Homo sapiens: one gene and its partner. The protein of the gene in region 2 interacts with the protein of the main gene of each other region in a pairwise test. Each region holds a gene or a part of one and is shown on either strand. Other genes may lie near its edges.

Region 1 (3,749 bases), on a different chromosome or scaffold from region 2:
AAGGTCCTTCCCTGCTGGCTTGGTGCAGGTTGGAGGAATGTCATAAACCCCCTCCGGTCTGAGGTCCGGCCTTCCAGCTTGTCTCATGGGAGGGGGGAAGTCATAGTCTTTTTCCCTAAGCCCTGCTTCATCCCGGCAAGCAGAGGGCGGAATGGCATATACCTGCAAAGCAAGTAGAAAGCGAAATGCTATTTATTGAGTTGGCTCATGGGAACCTGTGGTCCCATGTGCTCAGTCCTATTTGCTGGCACTTTTTCGGTCGCCCTCCCCCGCCCCAATGTTAGGCACTTCCAAGGTTCCCCGTTATTCTGCTGTCACTTCCCTTGTCCTTTGCCAAGTGTGTCCAACCCCACGTTCTTGGTGCAGACTCGTATGTACAACCCTCCTGGCTAAATTGCTCACCCTGTGTTTCCAGTCCTGTGTTTCTGACCACCTCCTGGGTATCCTTTCTCTGCTGATCTGTGCCGAGAGGCAGAGTAAGACCAGAGTTCTCCCCCGGTCTTTTTGGTTATCACACCAGCTGTGTGATGCTGAATGAGCTGCATAGGCGTCTGAAACACAGTCCCCTTGTCTGTAAAGTAGGGATTACTGTGCCTCCTGTGCAGGCATACCCCATAGGGTAACAGAGTGAGTCAAACGAGTTCACTCAAACATACACACTGAGGAAACTGTCAAACCCTCTACAGGCCAGGCGCGGCTCAGCCTGTAATCTCAGCACTTTGGGAGGCCAAGGTAGTAGGATCATTTAAGCCCATATGTTCAAAACAAGCCTGGGCAACATAGGGAGACACCGTCTCTACAAAAAATAAAATTTATCCAGTCATGGTGGCGTGCACCTGTGGTCCCAGCTACTTGGGAGCCTGAGGTGGGAGGATTGCTTGAGCCTGGGAAGTAAAGACTGCAATGAGCTGTGGTTGCGCCACTGCACTCCAGCCTGGGTGACAGAGCGAGACCCTGTCTCAAACAAAATGTAACAAAACAAAACAAACCCTCTACAAATATATATTAGTACTTGCCAAACTGAACTAATTATCTTCCCTGCCAAAGGGTTATCCTTATTGGCCACCTAGTGTTTTTTAGTTGGGGCTTCTCAATATGAAATCCCTAGAGCTATCTTTAATTAGTGCCTTTCCTTTTTTGCTTCCTTCCTTTACTCTCACCAAGACTACATTTTCCCCTTTTGGGTTTGCCTTTCTTGTTTTATTCGAGTGAACTACTTACCCACCCTCCCAACCCTGCACCCCCCGACACACAGACACACACACACACTCCTTTTTGCTGCTTTGTAGTCACTCACTCACCCCTTTTGTAGGCGGGATGTCATACACCCCTTGAGGTTTTATCTCTCCCACTGGAACTGAAAACACAGGGCCTTTTGCTGATGAGGGAGGGATGTCGTATACCTGAAGAGAAACCCGTGAGTTACCCAGAATGGAAATGTCTTATACTTGGTCATTTTTTATGCTCCTAAGCACTTAATTATGGATTTATTTACCAGGTTATGTACAAGCTTGATCTTTGGCAGTGCTCCATGTTATAACAGATTTATTGCCTTTTTTTTTAATACATTTTATGGTTTTTAACTTACATTTAATATAAAAATGATTTTGGCCAGGCACGGTGGCTCACGCCTGTAATCCCAGCACTTTGGGAGGCTGAGGTGGGCAGATCACAAGGTCAAGAAATCGAGACCATCCTGGCCAACATGGTAAAACCCCATCTCTACTAAAAATACAAAAATTAGCTGGGTGTGGTGGTGCACACCTGTAGTCCCAGCTACTTGGGAGGCTGAGACAGGAGAATCGCCTGAACCCGGGAGGCAGAGGTTGCAGTGAGCTGAGATCGTGCCACTGCACTCCCAGCCTGGTGACAGAACAAGACTCTGTCTCAAAAAAAAAAAAAAAAAAAAAAAAAAAGATCTTATGTGAAATATCTACGCTGTCTGTACTTTAAAGTGTAGTTTAAATTTTCTACTTTCCAGCTGGGGGCCGTGGCTCACACCTGTAATCCCAGCACTTTGGAAGGCCGAGGTGGGCAGACCACTTGCAGTTAGGAGTTCAAAACCAGCCTGGCCACCATGGCAAAAGCCTGTCCCTACAAAATACAAAAATTAGTCAGGTATGGTGGTGTGTGTGCCTGTAGTCCCAGCTACTTGGGAAGCTGAGGCAGGGGCAGGAGAGTTGCTTGAGCCTGGGAGGTGGAGGTTGCAGTGAGCTGAGATAGAGCCACTGCACTCCAGCCTGGGCAACAAAGTGAGATTCTGTCTTAAAAAAAAAAAAAAGAAAAAAGAAAAATCTACTTTCTGAAGCAAAATTGTAGAAGAACATAAGCTCTCTTGGGTGAAATACTAGGATTTCCTGATAAAGCAAATCCAGAAAACATAATTTAAATAGCATTGGCTAAAGTGGCTACTGGGTAGACAACCTAAACAAAGCTTCATATGACATATATTAATGCATAATTTGTGAACTCCCTTTTCTCTACAGCCCTGAAGGAATGCTACCCTTAGAAGCGCTTCTCCTCTTGTGACCATGTTCTGGTACGCACCCCTTGAGTGGTATGAGAAGGAGGGATATCATAGACGTCCTTTTGGTATCTGGATGGGTACTCGTATACGTAGCCATGGCCTGTCCTCACGGGGGTTATCACCTGTGGGAGAGAAGGCACAGAGGTGTAAATTTCCAAGCCTGAGTCCTTGAATCTCCTTGCCTCCTAACTAAGCACTCATCCCTCAACTCTCCCTCATAAAAAGATAGAAAGAAACCAAAGAAAGAAGACATAACAGGAAGGAGACAAGTAGACACCACGTTAGTAAACTTTTTTTTTTTTTTTTGAAATGGAGTTTTGCTCTTGCTCCCCAGGCTGGAGTACAGTGGCACAATCTCAGCTTACAGCAACCTCTGCCTCCCGGGTTCAAGTGATTTTCCTGCCTCAGCCTCCTGAGTAGTTGAGATTACAGGTGCACGCCACCATGCCCAGCTAATTTTTTGTATTTTTAGTAGAGACAGGGTTTCATCATGTTGGCTGGTCTCAAACTCCTGACCTCAGGTGATCCACCCACCTCAGCCCCCAAAAGTGCAGGGATTACAGGTGTGAGCCACTGCATCTGGCCCAGGTTAGTAAACTTTTAAATCCCTCTTGAATCCCAATGAGAAAAAAAATCCCTAAAATATCTCTATCACCCTTAATTGTGATCATCTCAAAGTTCATCAGATAGAGTTGATGCACTGCAAGCATATTTCTGAAATATACTTTAAGGGATACTTGTGTGTAACTTATGAAAGTCCTAGAGGAGCATTTTGCATCTAAAGTACCGCATACTGAAATTTGCTTTAAGGCTCTGAAACAATTTGTAAAATGAATAATGCAAATAGAGTTTAGCCACTTAAAATTCCTCTCATGCCTTCCTCAGTATGCCTCTTCATTGGACATTATTATGATGATTATAACTGTAATTCCACAGGTCACCAGAGTACTTTTACAAAGCCAATGCTCAAACTGTGCTGTCCTTAGAAACCTCTGGGAGCTTTCATTCTAACGTATCAAACAAACAAAATACTGAGTCAGGGAGGCACCAGGAACAGAATTCAGGTCTCCTGACCTCTGGTCTCTAATCATTTTCCCATTTCCACCAGGAAAGAAAACATCCCCAACAGTACCTACGTCAAGGGATATCAGAAGTCAAATAGCGTTCATCACGATGCTGGCATCTGGAACCAGTGCCAATAAAATGAATCTTACCTAGCAGC
Region 2 (3,749 bases):
ATGTAGTACAATCTCATACTTGATTTCAAAAAGCCCGGGAGGATGTATGTACACAAAAGTATTCATCGTGGTTATCCCCAGGAGAATTATGAGGAGAATTATGGATAAGAGTTTAATTTCCTTCTTTTTGCTATCTATGTTTTCTACAATCAATTTTAAACTTAAAAAAACAAAGTCAGAATAATAATTATTTATTTGATTGTGCCAAGAAATCTACTACATTAAAAAAAAAAAAAAAAAAAAAAAAGCCTGGGCACAGTGACTCATGCCTGTAATCCCAGCACTTTGGGAGGCTGAGGTGGGTGGATCACTTGAGGGCAGGAGTTCGAGACCAGCCTGGCCAACATGGTGAAACCCCGTCTCTACTAAAAATATAAAAGTTAGCAGGGCATGGTGGTGGACACCTGTAATCCCAGCTACCAGAGAGGCTGAGGCAGGAGAATCGCTTGAACCCAGGAGGTAGAGGTTGCAGTGAGCTGAGATTGTGCTATTGCACTCCAGCCTGGGTGATAGAGTAAGACTCTGTCTCAAAAAAAAGAAAAAAAACTTACGACATGATGCCCTTCCCCCCAGCCCCTGTCCACACACTTCCTGTCATGTTGTCCTTGGTTAATGATTGGCCAGATCAGGTTTACAATAAAAACCCAAGGGAAATTCTATGCCTCAATTCTGCAGACTTACTCTATTTTTCAATTTTTACAGTATTAAATGAAAAAACATTATTTATGGCAATCACCCAAATGACGATCACAAAGTATATTCTGGGCCATGAGTCTGTGGTCATGGGTTTAATTCCCCTTTTTTCCCACCTCTGGGTCACAGGATCCAGTAGGGAAGTGATGGAGAGTGTGAATAACTGCCAGCTCAATGGGGCAGAGGCAGCCTTGTTGATCTGGGCCACCTGCCCTCTCTCCTCCCGAAGCTAAGCCACTGCCTTGAGAAGGAGGGGCTGCAAATGGTCTGAGGCTGCTGGCAGCTGGCCAAGAGTTCAATTACCTGGGCCACAGCCCGCCCTCCTAGTTCTTCCGGTTACTGACTCTGTGGCTGCTGCCTCCCACAACGCTGTGCTTGCAGACCCCAGGAGCGCTGGCTGTCCCTTCACTTCCTGAACATGTGGATGTGTGCTTTGGGTTCTTGACCTCAGCTCTTCCCAAGGTCTTCTTAGAGAAGGGTCTAAATGAAGTCATTTTTAGAGTATTTGTTTTTGGTTACACAGGTGCTTCCGCCCATGTGGCCTCGGAGTGGGACCCTGCGGGTCATCAATCTGTACATTGCCTGAGAGCAGCCGTGTATGCTCTGGAAGGGACAAGACCAGGTACCTGTCGGGGGATGCGGCCGTGGTACCAGGCATGGCTGCGCAGGTCCTCGCTGCTCAGGAGCAGCTCCTCCTCCAGCTCCTTCTTCAGTTTCTCGGGGGTCCTGTCCATGATGTGCCTCTCCTTGGAGAACTGCAACACAGAGTCAACCATGAGCTCACCCTGCCCAGGCCACACCAGGCCATGCCAGCTGGAGGTGACCGCCTGCTTCACTAATCCAACCAGTTATGCTACAGCCTGCATTCAGGTAGGGGAGCCTGGATAATGATTACAAAGAGCTGTGACCTTTCGTTTCTCCGGCCGCAACCATGTAATAAAATTTTCACCTGCACATGGGGACTATGGTAGGAGAGTCCACCAAGAGGTTCCTTTTACCAGTCTACTCAAGCAGCTGGGCAGGAAGGGCCAGAGAGATGTACAGACAGCAAGACACAGCAGCCCAGCCTGCTCTCTTCCCAGCGGAGAGCTTCCTCATTCTCCTTCAGGACTGTCCTGACATAGCGTGGGGAGGGCAGCTGTTCCCTTCTGGCCTTAGATCCTGGGCCTCTGGGCAGTGAGGCCCAAAGCACAGTCCTTGGGCTGGTAGCGATGGCCCTAACTTCTTTGCTGTTGGTAAACTCATGTTCAGGAATTGAGTCAGTCTTTAGAAACTTTTAGGGCAAATGGACAGAGCAATTTTATGTCTCTTGAATCTAATAACAGAAGTCTGTCTTTATTTCACATTTCTAATATTTCATTTTTATGACAGATAGGAAAGTGAAACAAATTTAAAAAGACAACCCTGGTCCTTCACCTCAGATGTTTGAGAATCAGTGGTCTGCGGCGTTGCACAGTGGCCATGGCAGTGAGTGCTGGGTGGACAGCGGTGGCTCCAGGTTTAATTTAGAACCATGCCTGCTTACAACATGTGAACTGAACCTGGAAACCTGCCCAGTTCCCAGCAAGACCAGGCATGCTGACCAGGAACCGCTTGCTGAAAGTCCCATGAACAGAAAAAGGCTGTGTCCCTGTGGTTCTCCCAAGTTTCCCAGCTTGTCCTTCAAACCCCCATGGGAGCCACAAAATTATTACTTATCACACTACTTTTTAAAAATGTTTATTTATTTTATTTTTTTTGAGACAGGGTCTCACTGTGCTAGAGCACAGTGGTGCAATCTCAGCTCACTGTAGCCTTGGCCTCCTGGGCTCAAGCAACCTCCTGGGCTCAAGCGATCCTCCCATCTCAGCCTCCCTGGTAGCTAGGACTACAACAGGCACGTGCCACCATGCCTGGCTAATTTTTGTAATTTTTTTTTTAGAGATAGGGTTTTGCCATGTTGCCCAGGCTGGTCTCAAACTCCTGGGCTCAAGCGATCCACCCACCTTGGCCTCTCAAAGTGCTGGGATTACAGGCGTGAGCCACCATGCCCGGCCTATTACACTACTTTGCACGTCAGCAAAGAAATAGCTCCAAATCCTTTTCCACCAAACAACAACAACAACAACAACAACAACAAAGCCCTGGAATTTTAGGGCTAGATTCTCATCCTCTAGTGCTTCTTTGCACATTGGCCCATAAGGAGCGCTAGCTGAAGAGTAACTCAGGGGCTGATTTTTAGATGGGGCTCTGGCTTACTATTTGTTTACTTCTCCCTCCTTCTCACTGGGCAGACACTCACTTGGGAGTGTCTGAAGGATGGAATTTGCATCAAAGAGATGCGGACGCTGGCTGTCCAGGGTGCCTGCAGGCTTTAGACGGTGATGTTTGACACCGTCCGCTCCCATCATTAATATTGTACGGCTTCATCTGAAGACAGCTTGAGTGTGGAATGCAGTTTGTCAACTCGGCCACGCTTTATTGTTCGTTTATTGTCTGACTTGCCTCCCACTAGACTGTAAGTTTCATGAAAACAGAAATCCATCTACTTTTTCCCCACTGCCCTTGAGCAATGCCTGAAAACATCAGGCACTGGGTATTCAGTAAACAAATACCCTAGGATGAGAAAAGATGCTGACTTTGCTTAGTTATGGAGATTCTCCCTTTCGCCCTCAAGTCATCTGAAGCCCTGTTTTCGCTGGGCATGCTGCCATTCAGCCAAAAGACCACATTCCTCAATCTCTGTCTCTTCCAGGGAGATGTGGCCACAGGACTCAGTTCTGACCAAGGAGCTGAGATGTGATGGCTGGAGACTCAACACCATTCTGGACGGTGAGTGGGGAGCCACACCAAGGAATTGGCTGGGTGGAAGGTCTGATTGAGGCTGGGTCCCTGATGACTGTGGGGCCAACACACCAGCCCTGGACCGCCAGCCTCCAGGTCTTCTAGGTGATCTACCTTATGGAAGCCTGTGATTTGTGGGTGTTCCCGTCACTGGCAGCTGAACTAAATCCTAACCCATATTGTGACCTGACCCCCATTGAGTCACCCTGACAGGCAGTCTGCAGGCTTAGCCT

What was found. The genes of interacting proteins can lie anywhere in the genome.
Region 1: the proteins of BCAR3 (region 2) and NEDD9 interact in binary tests that used the Homo sapiens proteins (3 or more experiments, as listed by UniProt).

Annotation. Positions count from the first base shown.
Region 1 is NC_000006.12:11,191,044-11,194,792, forward strand, and holds part of NEDD9 (enhancer of filamentation 1), read right to left. Parts: intron 2,650-3,749; coding exon 2,548-2,649; intron 1,404-2,547; coding exon 1,302-1,403; intron 163-1,301; coding exon 1-162. UniProt on the Homo sapiens protein: Scaffolding protein which plays a central coordinating role for tyrosine-kinase-based signaling related to cell adhesion. As a focal adhesion protein, plays a role in embryonic fibroblast migration.
Region 2 is NC_000001.11:93,590,946-93,594,694, forward strand, and holds part of BCAR3 (breast cancer anti-estrogen resistance protein 3), read right to left. Parts: exon of another isoform or gene 1,470-3,749; coding exon of another isoform or gene 1,449-1,469; coding exon 1,320-1,448; exon of another isoform or gene 1,023-1,319; intron 223-1,022; exon of another isoform or gene 1-222. UniProt on the Homo sapiens protein: Acts as an adapter protein downstream of several growth factor receptors to promote cell proliferation, migration, and redistribution of actin fibers.